Linked DNA regions of Homo sapiens. The protein of the gene in region 3 purifies or fractionates together with the protein of the main gene of each other region. This does not show direct contact. Each region holds a gene or a part of one and is shown on either strand. Other genes may lie near its edges. The genes, in order: WDR3, ACACB and TSSK4.

Evidence for each region.
Region 1: the proteins of TSSK4 (region 3) and WDR3 purify together in Homo sapiens (affinity purification with mass spectrometry; one large-scale study listed by BioGRID and IntAct). This does not show direct contact.
Region 2: the proteins of TSSK4 (region 3) and ACACB purify together in Homo sapiens (affinity purification with mass spectrometry; one large-scale study listed by BioGRID and IntAct). This does not show direct contact.

Annotation. Positions count from the first base shown.
Region 1 is NC_000001.11:117,963,846-117,967,150, reverse strand, and holds the end of WDR3 (WD repeat-containing protein 3), read right to left. Parts: coding exon of another isoform or gene 3,213-3,305; 3' UTR 608-3,212; downstream 1-607. Other genes in the region: SPAG17 (sperm-associated antigen 17), read left to right, coding at 398-542, 3,213-3,305. UniProt on the Homo sapiens protein: Part of the small subunit (SSU) processome, first precursor of the small eukaryotic ribosomal subunit.
Region 2 is NC_000012.12:109,123,018-109,126,669, reverse strand, and holds part of ACACB (acetyl-CoA carboxylase 2), read right to left. Parts: intron 2,525-3,652; exon of another isoform or gene 1-2,524. UniProt on the Homo sapiens protein: Mitochondrial enzyme that catalyzes the carboxylation of acetyl-CoA to malonyl-CoA and plays a central role in fatty acid metabolism.
Region 3 is NC_000014.9:24,204,300-24,208,615, reverse strand, and holds TSSK4 (testis-specific serine/threonine-protein kinase 4), read right to left. Parts: upstream 2,921-4,316; 5' UTR 2,693-2,920; coding exon 2,468-2,692; intron 2,108-2,467; coding exon 1,893-2,107; intron 1,501-1,892; coding exon 1,107-1,500; intron 725-1,106; coding exon of another isoform or gene 653-724; coding exon 470-652; 3' UTR 368-469; downstream 1-367. UniProt on the Homo sapiens protein: Serine/threonine kinase which is involved in male germ cell development and in mature sperm function. May be involved in the Cre/Creb signaling pathway. Phosphorylates CREB1 on 'Ser-133' in vitro and can stimulate Cre/Creb pathway in cells.

The DNA.
Region 1 (3,305 bases), on a different chromosome or scaffold from region 3:
AAATTTATCTTTGTCTGCAGTAGCCGCTATTGCAGATTTCACTACTGAAAGTCACTACCGACATTCAAAAACTAGCACAATTAGGAGTATTGCAAAATTTTGCCTTCAGTTCCACTTCCAATAACCTGGCATTTAGCTTCCTTATGCTTTTTCCTAAATAGCACCTGGTTTGCCCCTTCAACAATTTACCCTGGCTCCCCTTTACTTAATGGAATTCTACCTTCATTATGAAGTAATTCCGCTAAATGCTTATAATAACTACCATTTGTTAGTGCCAAATTTATAGATGAAGAAACCAAAGGTAAGAGAGTTTAAGTAACTTGCTCAAATTCATATTATTAAAAGCAAGGTTTGAACTCAGAGTTGTCTGGTCCTAAAGCTACCTTGTGTCTTATAGGTGGCAGCTGGTATGCAGACAGAACTGAATATAGAGTTATTTGCCACAGCTGTTGGAGAGGATGGGGCCAAGGGATCAGCACACATCTCTCACAATATCGAGATTATGACAGAGCATGAGGTTCTGTTCCTACCTGTGGAAGCAAATATCCTTTAAAGTTCAACTTGAGTAATCATATATAGTGCAGAAATTACACGAGTGAGGAAAACATGGAAGTCAAAATGCATCTCTACTTTATTAATTCTATCTTCAAAATCAGAGTTAAATTTATTAAGACAAAGAGCATCTTCATTCATCTTTGAAAGCACCTAGCCAAATCTAAAAAAATACCTGACACATAGTATATGTGCAGTAACTTCAGATTGAATAAATGTAAATGTTATTGGCTATCTACGGAATATCAGACAGAATAATAAAACAGCAAGTATCTATCACAAAAAAATTATAATTTTATGGAAGGATAGGAAATACCTTATTATTATAAAGGTTGGGTATTCACTGAATTATGCATGCATTCCTCCTTATCAGTGTCTTCAGCCAAACAGATATTAGATAGATATCAAGAACCTATTACCTCCAAGGTACTGTATAAAATAGTTTATCATATATAAAAATGGATAATTGGACTCTGTCTTAAAAGGTATTATATAATTTGTAGCAGAAATAAAGTCTTCACATTTTATTTCTATTTTGTACTTTCTCCAGTGGCATGAATTGTGTGCTGCTTGTGTTACAGTTCTCTATTTATTTGATTTTTGAGCTGGATCTTATAGAATGTGAAAACTTGATTGACGGGAACTTTAAGTAAAAATAATGAACAAAACCATGGCAACAGGAAAGCTCCAGGTGTTTGGGATGATTGGCAGGGAGTTCAACTTGCCAAAAGCTTGAGTATTAGGAATATAGTGGGAAAGTAGGTTGGAGTCAAGTTATGAAAGATCTTAAATCCTTGGCTTGAATTTTATTATTTAAGCAGCAGTGAACCACTGCAGATTCCTGACCCTGTGGGTGACATGATCAGCATATCTTTATTAAGATGAATCCAGGGTTATTGTGCAGGACATGTCAAAGGGGAACAACTGGATGTGTAAAAGTACCATTAGAAGTCTACCTGAATGGGCCATGTGTGAGGACAAGAACTGGGAGTGGGGGAACAGTCAACATAAAAGAGGGACATGAATGAAAGACATGGTGGGGGAAGGAAACTGCAAAATCTGAGGTAGAAGCCATTGATGGATGGAAGAAAGAGGACATCGAGTTCAACTTCAAAGTTTTGGGCTGAGGTAATGAATCATGTATATGTAATATTAGATCTCAACTGAGAAGTCAGAATTGGAGATATAATAATTTTAAGCATCGTTTACACAGAGGTGATGGCTGAATGTATGGGCAAGGAACAGAAATCTGGAGTCGGTTTAGGGAGCAGGAGGAAGAAGAGCCAGTGGAGACAAAAGCAGCAATTAGAAAATGGTGAAATACTTCAAAAGCCTTAGGAAGAATTTCAAGGAAAAGACGGACACAATTGACGGATGCTATTGAGATGTCAAAGAAAATTCAGATTTAAAGTGTTAAATTTGGTTGGGATAAAAACTAAATTGCAAAAGGTAAAGAATGACTGTATTAAGAAAGCAGAAACATTAGTTATGGATATTCTTTCAAGAAAATTTATTAAAGGAAAGAGCAAGAGAATATGTTACTCAAGGATGCAACAGAATATAGGAAGGATTTTCAGTTTAATGTAGACCTACATGTTTGTAGGCTGAAGAGAGTGGAGCAGAAGATATATATTAAAAATATGAATGAGTAGAAGTGATTGAAACTGCAATATCCAAAACAGGGCAAAAGAATAATAAAAAACAGAGCTGAAGGGTTAGTCTTGGCAAGGGAGAAGCTGAAGATAGCTGATGATTCAGATATTCCGAGGTGAAGGAGAAAGTTAAAGGAACTTGTGTCAGATAGCACTGATGTCAATAAATGAAGTTTAGTTCATTTGTTCATTTATGCTTTCAAAGATGCCGAAACGCCTGCCTTTATGTAGCTTACATTCCAGTGGGAGGACAGACAATACATAAAGTAAGTAAACCATAAACAATGATGGCAGTAAGTACAATGGAGCAAAATATAAAATAGGAAAGGAAAGTCCTCACTGGGAAAGTCTCTCTCCCTTCCTCTCACCTTCCTCCCCTCCCTTTTTCTCTTCCTTTGAGTAATGACAGGGTTTTTCCATTGTGACAGAAGGAAACTAGCCAAAGAACTAGTTTTTTCCTCTGGTAACTAAATCAAGTGCCCTTACCCTCTCCACACAGGTTATTAGATGCAAATACCTGAGTCACTGCTGCTGATCATAGCAATGAAATCATTTGTATTTATAATAAATTTTCTATTTCCCTGCTTATAGATTAGAGAGAACCTGTCAGACACAGATAAAGGGCAAAAAATCTTATCAGATCTTTTATCTACTTACTTACAGTGTCAACAATGATCTGTCCCTCTCCCCACCAAAAAAAAAAAAAAAAAGCATGAAATCTGATGTAGATATGGTTTGGGGCTTGACCATACTGATGGCTCCTTATAGAAAGCCAGTCACAGTTAGGAGAGAAATGTACACTAGGGAGAACAGAAGACATTCTAGACATTGGCATATCCATCCTCTAACCCCCAAGCCTGAGCATGCAGAATTTGCATTGGATAGACAGTTACCTAAAATTGAACTGATGTTGCCAGAGAAGAAATTCTATGATTCTAAAATGTTATTTAGGTTTATATATGCAAATAATTTAGTCATGAAAAGCACAGCCCTTAACAAGTATTTTACCTGTTTTAACAAGCAGCAATTATGATAAACGACCAAAAGACTTTCCCCAGGGAAAAGAAAATCCAATGGTCCAGAGAACTTCTACAATTTATT
Region 2 (3,652 bases), on a different chromosome or scaffold from region 3:
CTCTGTCACCCAGGCTGGAGTCCAGTGGCACAATTGTAACTGACAGCAGCCTCGAACTCCTGGGATCAAGCAATCCTCCTGTTTTAGCCTCCCAAATAGCTGGGACTACAGGTGCACACCACGACATCTAGCTAATCTTTTTTATATTTTGTAGAGATAGGGTCTTTCTGTGTTGCCCAGGCTGGTCTTGAACTCCTGTCCTCAAGCAATCTTCCCACCTCTTCCTCCCAAAGTTCTGGGATTACAGGCATAAGCCACCATGCCTGGTTCAGATCAAATTCTTGATGTGGTGAATCTGCCATCCCAAGCAAAACTGGCCTGAATGGTTCCAGATCGGCCCCTGCCTTGAAGGAAGGTAAGAGGAGCCGTTTTTCCACCTCCAATGGAAAACATGTTCCGCAGTCTAAAGGCCTATCAGTCTGATCTGTCTGGCTAGCCTCTCACTTGAATTATCCCTGCAGAAATTGCTGAAGTCCACTGTTCAGCTCTCCTAAGTTCTGGTCCTTGCCATCTTCACAGGTGGAATCCTATCCTTCTTCGCTTCTCCCCCTGCTGTGCTGTGAATTTGCCTTCTTCAGCCATTCACTCATTCATCAGCAGGTATTTCCTGAGCACCTGCCAGGTGTGGTACACGCTGCTGGAGACATGGAGCAAACAGGCAGGAATGGCCCAGCCCTGCCCTCGTGGGTTTATGATCTCACTGGGAAGCAAATAAAATCACAAACCTGAGGGCACAACCAGGAGAATCGCCATGAACTCGTGATGGATCAGGTTTTGCACCAAAATGTAAGTCATTTTTGAGTGTGAAACCAAGAACCCTCTGGGCGACACAGTGCATTGGTTAGAGCACGAGATCTGGATTCAGGTTCTATTTCTGCTGTTCATTTCCTGTGTGACCTTGAACAAGTTTCCTCACCTCTCTGAGCTTGGGTTTTCTCATGTATACAATGATAAGGAAGTCTTCCTCATACAGTTTTGGAGTTTAAGTAAACTAATACAGATCAAGTCATTGATGAAAGAGTGTGCTACCATTTATGGTGCTCTCCATCATGTACCAAGCATTGCGCTAAGTGATTTACCTAAGATCAAGTTCAAGCCACTGTTATATCTCACTTGGGCCACTGCGAAAGTCTCTTGACCTGTCTCTCTGGCCTGGTCTTGTCCCTCCAGTTCATCATGCACAGAGAAGCCAAGGCGATCTTGTAAAAATTCCACAGACATCGTTAGTGTCCAGATTATAATGTCTCTAAGAACATTTCCCACTGAAAGGAACCAGGACTCCTTGGAGAAATGTCTGATTCTAGGGCTGGGGCAGAAATGTACATGATGAGCTGAGATATCTTCTTGCCTGAAAACAAGGACCCTCCAGGGGCATGGGCTACCAAAGAGAGGCTGCAAACGGATGATGACTGCAGTGGATTGAAACACATCAAAATATCTTTAAAAACCATAAGGTCGTAACACCCCTCAAAACAAAAACAACTCGTTGATACTTTTCATGGCTGCTAGGGCTACTCATTACTCTGAAAATAGACTTAGCCCCGCCCACACACAAAAAAAGGACATAATCAACCATGTACTCTGCCTTTCAGGGACTGTATTTCAGGGTAAGCAAATGCTTGAGGAAAGTCGTGTGGTAGAGAACAATGAGAGTTGGGCCGGGCACAGTGGCTCATGCCTGTAATGCCAGCTCTTTGGAAGGCCAAGGCGGGAGTATCGTTTGAGCTCAGGTTTGAGACCAGCCTGGGCAATGTAGTGAAACCTCATCTCTATCAAAAATACATAAAATTAGCCAGGCATGGTGGCGAGCGCCTGTGGTCCCAGCTACTCAAGAGGCTGAGGCAGGAGGATCGCTTGAACCTGACAAGTTGAGGTTGCAGTGAGCCAAGATTGTGCCACTGCACTCTAGCCTGGATGACAGAGAGAGACCCTGTCTCAAAACAAACAAACAAAACCAGAAACAACAACAACAACAACAAAAAACAACAAGAGCTAATAAGCACAGAAAGATTGACGGAAGTAGAAAATCACTATAGTAACGAAACAATAATCTGGGCTTTGCTCATCAGCAGGCAGTAAAGTCATTCGGCAAGAGGGTGATAGGGAACTTTACGACGGAGGTCAGACTGATACCCTAAACTCACTAATGAACAAAAATCACTAAAAGTGGGGTAACTGAACTTTATGTTCTTGACGTGATGCAAGAGAAAACAGAAAAACACCTTCAAAGTATTCCTGCTAAGGATCTGCACCTGAATTGATTCAAGCCTCTTGACCTAGTACTTATTTATAGGTATAGAAGAACATGTTAGATGACACTTGGAAGATGCAATCAGCCAAATCCAGAATATGGAAAATTCTACGGGACAAATGACCCAGTTTCAATAAGTAACTGGCATTTAATAAAGGGAGTTGCTGATTATTACAGATGAGGAGACTTAAGAGAAACCCTGTGGGTCCTGATTTGAATAAAACCATTCAAAGACATCTTTGAGCCACCTGGAGGACAGTCAGCATGAACTAGGTACTAGATTAAGGAATTATCATTCATTCTGTTAGATAGATATAATTATGGCAATGGTTTAAAAAAAAAACTTGTGTCTTTTAGAAATGTGTGCTAAAGTATTACGGGCAAAACAGTGTGACATCTAGCTGTGAGAATTGCTTGAAAATAGTCTGGGGGCCAGATGCAGTGGCTCACATCTATAATCCCAGCACTTTGGGAGGCCAAGGCAGGAGGATCGCTTGAGCCCAGGAGTTCAAGACCAGCCCGAGCAACATGGCAAACTCTGTTACCTAAAAAATAAAAATTAAAAAAAAAAAATTAGCCAGGCGTGGTGGTGTGTCCCTGTAGTCCCAGCTACTCTGGAGGCTGAGATGGGAGCCCAGGGTAGTAGAGGCTGCAAGTGAGCCGAGATTGTGCCACTGCACTCCAGCCTGGGCGACAGAGTGAGACCCTGTCTCTTTTCTTTTTTTTGAGACAGGGTCTCACTCTGTCACCCAGGCTGGAGTGTAGTGGCACAATCTTGGCTCAATGCAACCTCTGCCTCCCAGGTTCAAAAGATTCTCCTGCCTCAGCCTCCTGAGTAGTTGGGATTACAGGTGCATGCCACCAGGCCTGGCTAATTTTTGTATTTTTTGTAGAGATGGGCGTTTTTCCATGTTGGCCAGGCTGGTCTTAAACTCCTGGCCTCAAGTGATCTGCCCGCCTCGGCCTCCCAAAGTGCTGGAATTACAGATGTGAGCCACCACGCTCGGCCTAAGACCCTGTCTCTTAAAACAAACAAATAAACAAACAAACAAAAAAAACTCTGGAGCTCTAATTAATGACATGCATGTTGAAGTATTCAAGGATAAAGACACTGATATCTGCAATTTACAGGTGACAAATACAGAAAAATGGTAATGGCAGAATCTAATCAGGGGTATATGGGCACCCACTGTAAAATTCTTTCAACTTGTATGTTTAAAAATTTTTTTTTTTTTTTTGAGATGGAGTCTCGCTCTGTCGCCCAGGCTGGAGTGCAGTGGTGCGATCTCGGCTCACTGCAAGCTCCGCCTCCTGGGTTCATGCCATTCTCCTGCCTCAACCTCCTGAGTAGCTGGGACTACAGGCACCTGCCACCACGCCCGGCTAATTTTTTGTATTTTT
Region 3 (4,316 bases):
CGTGAGCCACCGCACCCAGCTCGAATACCCATTTCTAAAAGAACTAACAGTGCCATTACTTTGGACTATAGACAGGCAGAGCCATAATCAAAGTGGAAGAACCAGGGCTTTTACCCCACTACTTGAGCATTTAAACAGCACAAAGATGTAAAATAATGAGCATATGTTGAGTTGAATAATAAAGCTTCCCAAAATAGAGCGTTAATCTGAGCACCCCATCCCCTAAGAGCCACATCATGAATTACACTATTGATTTAACACAGTGTCAAGATTATTGGTTACAGGCTCTGGGCAGAAATCTATCTCTTACTCCAGCAGTGTTCCCTGCTATAAGATTGCCTTGAGAAAAGAATGTCTTTGACCCTAGTTGATGAAACTAAATCAGACTTAGATTTATTTTTGGTAAAAAAGATTTTTAGCCCAAGACCTCCTGCTTTGCTCCTCTCTTAGCCCCCTCCCTCAGCCATTTTCAGGTCGTAATTTGCAAGGATTGGTGCTGTTTAGTGGTGTTGTGGAGCTGGCACATGGCCTCAAGCAGCCTGATCTCATGGGTGGGTTGCTCAGGCTGGAACTTGAGCACCCAGGAATCCTTGATGATGTCCAGAATGGTGGCACGCTTAGTGGCTTGGCGTAGCATCTGGAGGATCAGGTTCTAGAGCAGGGGAGAGAGAGGTCTTGCCTGAGTTTTTCTCCATTGTGCCACACAGGCAATGAGCAGTTGGACCTAAGAAAGAAGCAGGATAGCCCATCATACCACTCTGGTCAAAGTGGGTGTGGCTCTGATTTTATCTTGGAGACCCAGGCAGTTAACTCCCTGGAGGGGAAGGGAAGAGTTCCTTGGGAGGAATGCTTTCCATATTTCCCTTCTGGCCTAAAGAGAAAGAAGCTGGAACCTGTGTATCAGGCAAGGTTTGGAGCCTAGTGGTTGGCCCTTTATGCCTTCCATACTGTTTATTATAGGACAGGAGCTAGTGTGTGAGATGGCTCTGGTGTGGGAAGAGCCTTTCCCCAGGGTTGGGAGGCCTAGGTTGGGTGACCTAGGTTGGATATTCACCCCTCCCTGTGGGTCATCCCTGAAGGCTCAGCCCTCCTTAGGTAGCCAGTACCTTGCACTCCTGGGAGATGGTATGGTTAGCTGGGAAAGTGACCTCCTTCTGAGTCTCTCTTAGCAGCTTTTTGAGATTGGTGTCATCAAAGGGCAGATGGGCGACCACTAGAGTGTAAAGGATGACGCCCATGCTCCAGGTGTCAGACAGGAAAGGGTTGTAGGGCAAGCCTCGTAAGATCTCTGGGCAAGCGTAAGCAAAGCTGCCACAGTAAGTCTGGCTGAGGTGGGAAAAGCAGTTCACTTGGCGGTAAGAAGGGCTACAACCCACAGGCTGGTTAGAAGGCACCATCTTGGCAAAGCCAAAGTCTGATATCTTCACATTCTCCCACTTGTCCAGCAACAGGTTCTCCAACTTTAAGTCCCTACCAGCAGCAGAAAGGCTGGGCATCAGGCTGGGGAGAGGGCTTAGTTTTAGACTGGGAGCTGAAGGGCCAGGGGTCAGAGGGTAAAGATGAGGACAGAGGAAGTGGGAGGTAGAAACCATTATGAGGGCACAAGGTAGAGAGGAAGGAAAGCCATGGAGTTGTGAGCAGAGCCCAAAGTAGGGAGAGAGACAGAGGATGGTATCTGAGGACCACCGGGAGCTCACCATTGTATTTCATAAAATGCTTTGCATACAGTGAGTACTTTATCAGTATCCTTGACCATATGATTAAAATAGAGTGCATGAATAGGCTAGATATTGAGGAGGGAGTTCGAAAGAGGAAAAAAGGACAGGAAATGGGAGATGTGCATAAAACCCCCTTGAGGGCAAAGGCCCCAGTCTGGGTGGCAGCGCCCTCACCGGTGCACGATGCTCTTGCTGTGCAGGTAGGCAATGCCCAGGGTCAGCTGGGAGAACCACTTGCCAGCAAGGGGCTCAGAGCAGGCCCCGTAGCGCTGGATCCATTCAAGGACATCACCACCCTGAGCCAGTTCCAGAATGATGTATACTCGAGATGTGCTCTCAATGGCCCGATAGAAGTTGATGAGGTACTTGTGCCGCAAGACTTTCATTACCTGACCCCAGAAGAAGGACCCATCAAACCTGGGAAGGGAGAACCCTGACTGCACTCCCAGCCGTCTCCTACCCTCAGCTACTGACTTAGGACTTTGCAATAGGATCAGCCCCTCAACCCCAGAGAACTGGTGGCCTGTGGGCAAATGCTATGTTTTGTGCCTTTACTTTTTGGGGACTGAAGGTGAGTGGGTGGATGGGAAAGAGGTTTAACTTACATAAAGTTTCCTAGCTGCTTAGTGAGACATTTCAGTTCTGGTTTAGGGGTTTCTGGCCCCACCCCTCCTGGCCATACCCCTTCTGAGAAACCTCAAGCAGCTTAGTACCAAGCTCCAGTTCCCTCTTCCAGCCCCCTTTCCAACCTGTATTTCACGGGGCAGGAACTTGTTAAGATAGTCATCAGAGGCCTTCTTCTTTGAGATGATCTTGACTGCCACCATAACCTTCTGCTTTGTGTAGAAAGCCTCATATACCGACCCATAGGAGCCATGGCCAATGGCCTTGCCCACCTCATAACCATATTCATCCATGAGGGAATGGTAGGCTGTGGTGGTTGGTGCTGCCTCTAAGACATCTCCCTTCCCCATGGTGTTGGGCTTGCTGAGAGCAGGGAGCTTTACTACTTGGAAGCCTCCTATCCAAAGGCCAACACCTTGAGCTGCTGAAGGCTAGGGTATCAAAGTGAAGTAGGTCCCCAAATGCTTGCCTATATAGTCACACGAGTCTGGGATGCTGGACTCAGCCCTCCACTAGGAACTTGGAGGGGGAAAGAAAGAGAAGCAGTTCTTTTTGTCTCCACTGGCTGTTGTTACTTTCTCCTTTTGGTTACGGAACTCCTCAAGGTCCCATGTTCCGAATACATCACAATCCACCTCCTATCCATCGTTGGCCACAAAACTTGAGAATGAAGTGCGGCCGGGCGCGGTGGCTCACGCCTGTAATCCCAGCACTTTGGGAGGCCGAGGCGGGCGGATCACGAGGTCAGGAGATCGAGACCATCCCGGCTAAAACGGTGAAACCCCGTCTCTACTAAAAATACAAAAAATTAGCCGGGCGTAGTGGCGGGCGCCTGTAGTCCCAGCTACTTGGGAGGCTGAGGCAGGAGAATGGCGTGAACCTGGGAGGCAGAGCTTGCAGTGAGCCGAGATTGCGCCACTGCACTCCAGCCTGGGCGACAGAGCGAGACTCCGTCTCAAAAAAAAAAAAAAAAAAAAAGAGAATGAAGTGCAGTTGGAAACGTACTCATTCCCAGAGGCACCTTCCACAGTCTGGTGAAACTCCTAAAGATCAGACCTTTCATTGATATATGAGTACCTACTAAGTACCAGACACTGTGCTGAATACTTGGATAAAATGTCACCCAAATGTCATGCCAGACCCTTCCTCCTTCCTCAATCCCTACATACAATCTTTCATCAAATCCTGTCTCTGCTATCTCCTACTTATCTCTTTAATGATACACTCAAGGCTTTCCGAGCCCATTGCAGCCCCCTTAGTTCAATAAGGCCAATAGAGACACTATGATCCTAAAGCTTATAATGCAGCATGAGAAATACGAGTGTGAAAGTATTACCATTGTAAGGTATTGAACATGTTCTAGGAAAATCTAACCTTGAAATGCATCCTTATCTTCTATGAGCCAGAACTCTCTAGTTTTCCTCCACATCCTTCTGGTCACTCCTCAGCCTTCACTGAAGTTATATCTTTCTCTATCCATCCCTTAATCATATCCCAAGTGTTACATCACAAGCTTTATTTTCTCAAACCTTCACATCCTCCCTTAATCTTGTCCATACCCATGGTGTCAATACTACATTTATGCTGACTGCTCCTAATTTCATCTCCATCCCATATATCTGGAGTTTAGATAGAGCAGCCAGTATTACGTGGCCATGTCTGCCCCAGGCATGGAACTTACCATATCCATCTCAAACTTAACCATATCAATAATTGAACTTATTTTCTTCTCTCAGACTTTTCTGTGAGTTGTACACTAATCACCCTTAATTTAGACACTCATATGTCATCCCAGACCCTCCTGCCTCAGTCCCTACATTCAATCTATCACGAAATCCTATCTCTTATACCTCCTGATTCTCTCTTTGATAATATTCTCATGGTTTTCTGAGCCCACTGCTAATCCCTTAGTTCACGCCTCCATCATCGAACAGATGGCCCCCGCCAGCCTTCTGCTCCACTCCAGTCTGTCCA